Regions from separate parts of the Homo sapiens genome. Here region 1 is linked to region 2. Evidence: fine-mapped expression QTL. Tissue or cell type: prefrontal cortex. Region 2 holds a variant in brackets; the other region holds the start of a gene. All regions are shown on one strand. Distances are between the middles of the regions.

Region 1 (4,162 bases), 120 kb before region 2:
ACCAGTGGGCAACATGCAGGAGAACATCTGGTCACATTCCCTGAGTTCCCCAAGTATAGGCCAACCAGACCCACTGCCTAACCAGATGGAACTACCCGGGATGCGGGGAGAGGAGACCTGAGATCTGTAAGTTGGGAAACCCTCCGTGGCTGCCCAGCTGTCAGGAAGGACAGCATAGGATGGATCAGACTGTCCAGAACTCTCAAGAAGAATGTGCACCTTTGCCCTTTGCCCAGGGGCCAGGGCCTCTTTGTCTGCCCAGTCACATCCTCCAGCCCCCAACACATCAGCTCCCACAGGGGCTTCTGGAACATTTCCAAGGATGCTCCCATGAGCTGGCCAGGCTCCTACAGCTGTCACAACGTTGTGGCACCTGTTGGCCAGGGACAATGAAGCAGGAGGGCCAGGATGCTGCGGGGTCTTCTCTCCAAAGCAGGACACCACTCCTTCTGTACTGACCAAGCCATAGACTTGGAAATCACCAAGTTCACTTTCACATGGACAGACTGAGTCACCCTGGGCCAGTGATTTATGCTCTCTGAGTCCTAATCTTCCTGTAAACCAAATTCCTGCTGCCCAGTCCAGTGCCTGGTGCATAGTGGGGGCTAGACAGACATCTGTTGAGTGCATGACCAGGGCGCTGTAGGTGGAGGAGGTGGTGGTGGGGTGGGGGAGGGGAATTCCCCTGCTGCTCCCCGTTCTGTGGGAACCAGCTCCAGAAAGAAATCCTCTGCCGCCCTTCCCACCCTACTCCAACTTTGGATCTGCTCTCTGACCTCCTTCACTTGGCCCTAGTTCTCCACCCAGAGTCAACCCTGCCTGAAAGGCACCATGTCCTGTCACCAAGGTCTCAAAATAGGGAAAATAGTCTCTGAAGCCCTCAGCCCGCAGGAGATAGGGCACCCCAGGGTACAAGGCTTCACCGAGGGGCTGGAAAAAGAGCCCAGATCCCAACACCTATAGAAAGGGGCCCTGGCTGTCCAGCTGTGAGTGGCCTTCCCCTCGCCTCTCAGCACACCTGGAAACGACTCCACATGTGGGCGCCGCGGGATGCTGGGTAGCAAGGAGATGACCCAGCTGAACAATGCATTTGGTCCACTCCTGCGAGGGGAGGAGAACGCCGAGGGACAGGAACTGCGCGCCAGCAAAAGACACCCTAACCTGGGGTGCGCCCGCCAGCTGCTTTCCCAAGGTGAAAACCTCCAAGAGGCGAGATGCAAATCCCAGTGGCGTCCACACCCGGAGGTGTCTTCTCTCCAGGTCGCCCCTCCGTCTCATGCGACACCCCAATCCCCGCAGCCTCTGCTCAGCGTGGGACCAAGAATGGGGAGTCCTACCCCTCCTCGGCTTTCCAGCCCCCTAACCCAAGACAAGAGGGCGCGCGCCCGGGCTGGGACAGGTCCCAGCCGCATTTTCGTAGATTGCACTCCCCGCCCGGGAGCGACCCGTTCCAGCAGCCCCCTTCCCGCCCCATCAACGCGGCCGCACTGTCGGCGTCTAGAGGCGACATCCTGGCAAAGACAGGAATCAAGTCAGAAATTCAGGCTCTAGAAGCAAAGGCTGCGGTGCCTCCTGGCTGGAAGAAAACGGCGGGTGGGTGGAGGATGCGGTGCGCGGGAATTTCCCCACGGACGCTTGCTGTTTCCTGCTCACCTTTCAGGAAGGTGCCCCTCTACCTGCACCCTCCCCTGCAATTTGGAGCTCGTCCGCGAGCTCAGCTACCCGCTGGCTCCCTCTGCCCGCGCCCGCACACCACAGACTCCGCTTACCGTACCCTACCCGGTCCTAGAGGGCCCAGAGGGGATCTCCTGAAACCAACTCGCCTGCTTGGAGCCAGCCCCGACGCATATCTCGAGAGTGGCGGGAGGCAAAGCAGCCGGAATGCCCGAGAAAAAAGTGGGCGTCAGAGGCCCTTGTCCTAGCGACTCCCCCACCGCACCGACTGAGTCCCGGGACTGCAGGGATCTAAGCCCTTACCTGTCTCGGCGCCTCCTTTCTGTGCGCTCTGCTGCTCCGGAAGCCGGATCGAGAGTCACAGTGTGGTTGGGCGCAGGCGGGCCGCTCGGTTTTCACCTCGAGGACCCGGACTTGCACTTGCAGAGCCGCTGCGTGGGGGATGTCCCTCTTTTTTCCTCGCCCCGGCGGGCTCCTCCGGCGTGTCAGGGTCTCTGGGTTCCAGCTGGAGTTGGCGCTCCGGCCCCACAGCTCTTTCCAGCGTCTCGGACCTGTGCGCCCCGCCCCGCGCTGGACTCCGCCCCGGGGTCCCCGCCTGCCTCCTAGTCCAGGCCAAGGGTGGATGCCCAGCTCCCCCACCCCACCGCGTGCTCTCGGGCTGGTGCGTCCAGGGCGCGGGCACCGTAGCTCCGGCCGCGCTGACGCGAGTCCCCGGCAGCGGGGGCAGCCTCTCGCACGGATTTCAGCGCCTTCGCATCCCGTCTGAATCGGACCACACAGTAGCCGGGTTTCTACCGTGCGCTTGGGAACAGTGAGCACCGCCCTCTGCCGCCAGTCGTGGCACCGCACCCGGGTCGCGCGCGCAGGAGGGGAGAGTCCTGTCTTCCGGAGGTGCCCAGTGCCAGCGTCCGCGCCCACTAGAAGGTGACCCTTTCAAGGAAAGCCCGGCTCCGACGAGTGCGGTGTGGGCCTTTGGAGATGGCGGTGAAGGAGGAGGCCCCCAGGAGGAAGCTGGGGATGGGGACAGTTTGCTCTGCTCAAAGCCCCTGAAGTCCTCACCCAAACTTTGCGATGACCACCACTATCAGATTCCATGGCCGTATAAAGACAATCCCAGGAGTGCCTCAGCCCATCTGTCCGGAGAGTCTGGAGCCCTTCACTTTGCTTCTGACAGGTTCGAAATCCTCCCACGACCTTCCTGGTTAAACACAGGAACTGCCCATTCAAATGACTGGTGCCCAGGAAGCTCTGGGCATACAGGATTGAACCTGTGGCAGGACCCTGAAGGTCTAAAAAGGTGTTCCCCATCGTTAAACCCCAGCCAGCGGATTATTGGCAGGTGGGAACATGGACTCCACTTTGTCAGAGCTTCCCATTGTTTTCAAGAGAATCTGGAATTCGAGAACTTTAAAAATAGTCTTTGGGTTCGTTAAAGCAAAAATCTTGTTTTGGTCAAAGAGAACCTGTCTCAGACTGAACACAGTCCACAAGGCTGCCAATTAAAAATTTTTGGATAAATGAACTTCAAACTCCTTCAGGTTGTGACATTCTGTGATTCTGCTTTTCCCACCTTACCTGGAACCTGACCCCACTCTCCCTACCTCTTAGCATCTCTCCCGCATGATCAAAGGCAAGAGAGCCAGCTGTTTGCTTTCCTCCTGGGGAGGGGCTGCGATTGGGCAGGTGTTCTACATGCTCAGGGCAACTTCCAGATATGGAGGCAAAAAAGCTCTGTTGCTTGAGTGGGGGAGATGATGGGGTGGCCAGTTGTACGCCCTGGACACATTCTTTGCAATAGTGCATACTTACCAACTTCAGCTAGAGGCTTCTTCGCTCATGGACCATGCCTGCCCTATTCAATGGGGGCAAACAGACCCCTGGGACCATCTGCCCGCTGGTGCTTTCATGGAATCCTCTGAGATGAGTTAAGGCATGGTTGCTTCCACACAGATCTGGCGACCCACAGATGTCGCTGTAGTAACTCCAAGTCCTGACCACCCTCAGCAGAGTAGGAGCTTTTTCTGGGGATGGACATGTGGTCCCCAGGGAGACAGTGGGTGCTTAGAAAACAGTGCAACAGAGTGCTACGGGGAGTTGTCTTAGTTTAGGTTTCCCCCAAGGAGACTCCCAGACAAAGACCTGAGTGCAGGTAGTTTATTGGGAGCAGATCCCGGGAAGCACACACAGGGGGAGGGGAAGTGAGGCAGGGAAGGGAGAAGGGCCCATACACGATATGCTAACGAGCAGGGTGCCACTGCGGCTCACTCCAGTTGACCTGCAGACCGTGTAGAACATGCCTCATGGTTGTTCACAGCAGCGCGGGGAGGCTGGACATTCAGCCATCGATTCCTACCCCCTACTGATGGACAGATTCCCTGAGAGCCAGAATTTCCCTCACTTTTGAGTTGTGTCCCGGTGTGGTGCAGAAAGCCCAAGGCTGAAAAGAAGAGAGCTTCAGGCCTTGGATGGGAGGTGTCATGGTGCCTGG
Region 2 (4,162 bases):
TTTTTTGGAGACAGATAGGCGTGTTCTTGGTTATTCAACAACTCCACGATCAATGTGGTACTTTATTTAATACGTCTGATTTCACTAATGCACAAACAACCTTGCCTGAGTCTGGTATGATCATTCTCATCTTATAAATGGAGAAGCTGAGACTGGGAGTTTCCAAGACACCCCAGCTCACAGTCACTGGCAAGGGCCGTCCCCAAATCTGAGCCTTCCGCGCAGCCCAGGCTGCTCCCAGCTGCACCATGTTCCGGGTGCAACGAGAGAAGGGTCAGAAGTGAGCGGGCAGAGGACGCCCTCCCCTGCTGGCTGCTGGTGGCACTAGGGGCTCCTGGCAACGACGCCTGTCAGGGACGCCTTTCCAGACGCATCAAACCCAGCTTTCAGACGCTGAAGGTGACATCCTGTGAGGGCGACAGCAGCAGTTATTGGAAAGGGGCCGGGTGAAGTCCTGAAGTACTGACTGCTTAGGCTCCACGCACCATGCTGGGTAGACCCTTTCTTCAAGGCAGCTTCTGAGTTGGACATGCCCATTTTGCAGATGGGAGATGAAGGCTTCTGAATGTTAACTAACCCGCTAAGCTGAAGAGCCAGGAGGATTTGGACCCCGGGCTGCCTTCACAAGCCCACCTTCTGCTGGTCCACCTCCTCATCCCAGGATCTAAGGAACCTGAGGGAAACAAGAGCCCTGTATTAGTAAAGGTTTCCCAGAGAATAAATAGTTATAGATCAATAGCTATGAGATTTATTATAGGAATTGGCTCATGTGGTTATGGAGACTGAGAAGTACTCCCATCTGCTGGCTGCAAGCTGGAGAACCAGAAAAGCCAGTGGTGTAATTTGGTTCAAGTCCAACAGAGTGAGAATCGGACTAGCCTTGGGGGGACAGGGGGTGGGGGAGCCTGTGTAAGTCCCAGGATTTGAAGGCCTGAGAAGCAGGGCACAGATGTCCAAGGAGAAGATGGATGTCCCAGCTCAAGTAGAGGGAGTGAATTCATCCTTCCTCCACCTTTTTATTCTATTCGGGCCCTCAGTGGATTGGACGGTGCCCACCCACACGGGTGAGAGCAGATCTTCACCCAATCCACTGAGTCCAATTCCAACCTCTAGGGGACAGCCTCACAGACACACCTAGGAATCATGTTCCACCCACTGTGTGAGTATCCCTTAGCCTAGTCAGGTTGACACATAAATTTAGCCACCACTAGCCCTCTGTACAAGGCCACTGCCCCACTCCCTGGGCTGGCTTCTGATGCTGCCTGCAGGCCAAAGCACCAAGATCTTGGCTAGGGTCCCCATCCTGTAAGCCATGCAAGGACATTCCTTCCCTCCTGTCTAAAGCCCTTCACCCTTCTAACCACTCCGCTCTGGTGGCCAACGCTTTGAGGGGGTAGCAGAGAAAGCTGTGTATTCAAACCCCTGAAAGAGGATGTCCTAAGTTTGTCTTGGATGGAACTAAACCATCCCACATCCATAACTGTGGGATCCCTGCCATCCCGGAATTATCTTATATTCACAACTCCGACTTAAGGCACAAACAGAAGCTACTGTCTGACACGTTGGCCCTTGGCTGGTACACACAGAGTTGAACCATCTGTTGGGCAGTTTGCCCAAGGCTTGTCTTGCTTTTGGCAGCCCATATTTATCTACAATGGGTCTCTCTGATATGAGGGTAGACTTTGCTGGAGGCCAGGGTAACAGAGCATAGGAATTAGGCATGTGTCTCCTTCCTTGATTTTCCAAGATGCCTTTAGAGGATCCTCAACCTGCTGACACTTGCTGACTAGTAAAGCCCTTCCCTTTTCTACAATTGTACTTACGAATATCAGATAAAGGCAGGAAAGGTTGGGAACATGCAAAAGAGCCCCTAGCAGCTGTGTGGGGAAGCGGACAGCTCCCCTGTGGGGCCTGTGATGGTGCATTGGTATCACGGTCTTGTGTGCAAAGAGGCCGGGACTGTTCTTCCCACTTGCTGGATCAAAGAGGTGGCACACCTTGTTGAAGGTAAAAAGAGCCAAAGGCTTAGAAGGAACTTCCATGAGACTCTCCCTCTCCTCTATTGGTGCTCACTTAGCTGAGAATATGTACAACGATATCCTGGCCTGGGACAAAACAGAGCAGGTGCTAAGAGGATCACGGCTGTCACCTGATATCATTGAAATGTTTGGGGCAGGGGGTCCTCCCTCCGGGCCTTGCCAGGTACCCCTCTACTGTGCTGCTCCATCTCACTCCTGCTGACTCGTCCACCATGGGACAATCCAGAAAAGCATGAGAAAAGCACTTGGCACTTCTTGTGTGGGAAGACATCACAGTGGCCGCAT[C/A]CCCCATGAGTGTTCCTATCTTCTGTGCCAGGGCTGCAGAGAACACAAGCTGTGGCTGCGGCACTCACTGCCTACTCTGCCTCCTCCATTCACATCTTCACACAGATGCCAACTGTCTGCCAAAGGGAATAAAAAATAAAAGCAGAGTGAACTTGACATCCTATACCTTCCAGCATTATCCCTCTGAACAAAGTAGAAATGGTGCAACAGCTGAAGAAAAGGACTCAGAGAGGAGAGAACGGAAGAATGATGAGATGTGATGAGTTAGTGAAGTCAGGCCCCAGGAAATTCCACACCAGCAGCATCAATCTGCCTTCTGTACCCAATGCTGAGGGATCAAAACTTGGAGCCCAGGGCTGGAGCCTCAGGATTCCTCCCCAAATCACACTGGCATGACTGTGTGCAACCCCGGAGTTGGGCTCATGTTTCTTCTGGAATTGTAGAATATAAGGCACAATTTATTCTATCCTTTCATCTTCCTGCTTTAAGTTTAGAAATTGCTGGTGGCTTTCCCTTAAAGGGAGTACATTTAAATTTTTTGTATTAAGTTCTTAAGTTTCTTAAGGCAAAATATTGATGGTACCATCACCATCTTCGTCTGAAAGTCATGTTCACATTATAGAAAAGACTTTCGCTAGACTGAGTCTTCCTCAGTCAAAGATTATATCTTGAAAGTGTATACTAGGTTAAGCAACACTTTTGAAATGTTATCATACTTTAATCAGAATTTCACACACAACACATTAAGAGTAGCCAACAGTGAGGTCAATGTCCTTATTTTCAAAAAAGCATTTTTCTCCAGTTTATTTTTATGAAAGGTCAGTGCCTTGGACATAATGTTCACTTCCATTCAAGAACATTTCTTGATAAGTAGAAATAATTTTTCAGGCAAAAACCTGATGTTCTAAGTTCAATAATAACCTGTTTCTACACTATGCCAAATTCTGGTGTGAAGGGAATTTTTACTGACATGGTAATTTTTTCACACATTTTATGATTTTTAAAAAATAGCCAGGTGTGGTAGCTAACACCTGTAATCCTAGCACTTTGGGAGGCTGAGGCGTGTGGATTGCGTCAGCCCAAGGGTTTAAGAACATCCTGGGCAACAAAGTGAGACCCCGTCTCTATTAAAAAAAATCATAGGATATCCAATAGTCAACAGTTCTCTGGTTTCAAATTTCTGCCAGAAAAATAATCTACAAATCAACTTGTCTAAAGCAAAAGTCCTTATTCATAATAGCTGCCATCAATTTCTAACTATTATGTTGCTGATAACAGCATATAGCAAGTCAGTCAACTCAGTTATTGGGAATATTTTCAGCTGTTAATGTTGGTATGTGTGCAGCATAGGGTTAAGACTGTGGGTATAGAATTCACACTTCCCAAGTTCAAATCTTTGTTTATTGTTTACTAACTGTCCAAACTTGGGCAATCGACTAAACTGCAATTTCTTCATCTTTAAAATGGAGACAGCATATTCCTCCTAGAGTTATTGTAAGGATTAAACAGGCAGGTAAGAGCTAAGGTGATTATTGCAATGCTGAAAAAACCTTATCAGTTTCTCTTATTATATTTCTCAAACTGTGTAGATCATGCTTGGAGAATAAAGTGTTTAAGTTGGTCAATTGAAAATCTTTTCGGAAAATTAAATACCTTTGCTGTTAATAAGTCAAATCAATGTTAATAATATTCTTCTGTGTATGTCCATAGCCTTGAATTGTAATCCAGCCTATAGCCCGTATCATTTTGTTTGAGTTTTTAACAATAGACTGAATTGTTAAAGAACAGTTTTAGAGTTTCAGAAGAGTTGAGAAAACAGTAGAGTTCCCATATGCCTG

Which allele goes with the higher level. Alleles are on the strand shown, and positions count from the first base shown. SD is a standard deviation of normalised expression in the study named.
In carriers of allele A in region 2, the expression in prefrontal cortex of the gene that starts at base 2,438 in region 1 tends to be lower than with C alone (small effect, 0.34 SD a copy in ROSMAP).

What was found. PIP is the estimated chance that this variant, and not a neighbour inherited with it, causes the effect.
Region 1: PROKR2 starts here. The variant in region 2 is fine-mapped to the expression of PROKR2 in prefrontal cortex (ROSMAP, PIP 0.95).

The regions. Positions count from the first base shown.
Region 1 is chr20:5,314,517-5,318,678 of GRCh38, forward strand. PROKR2 (prokineticin receptor 2) reads right to left here and starts at 2,438. Exons shown (of 3, transcript NM_144773.4): 1 at 1,978-2,438.
Region 2 is chr20:5,431,966-5,436,127 of GRCh38, forward strand. It overlaps LINC00658 (long intergenic non-protein coding RNA 658), which reads right to left. Exons shown (of 5, transcript NR_038240.1): 3 at 2,207-2,440; 4 at 1,824-2,105; 5 at 1-673. Among named protein-coding and RNA genes, the nearest start is that of LINC00658, 12 kb to the right of the region's middle. The variant C/A (reference allele first, on the strand shown) is at 2,325.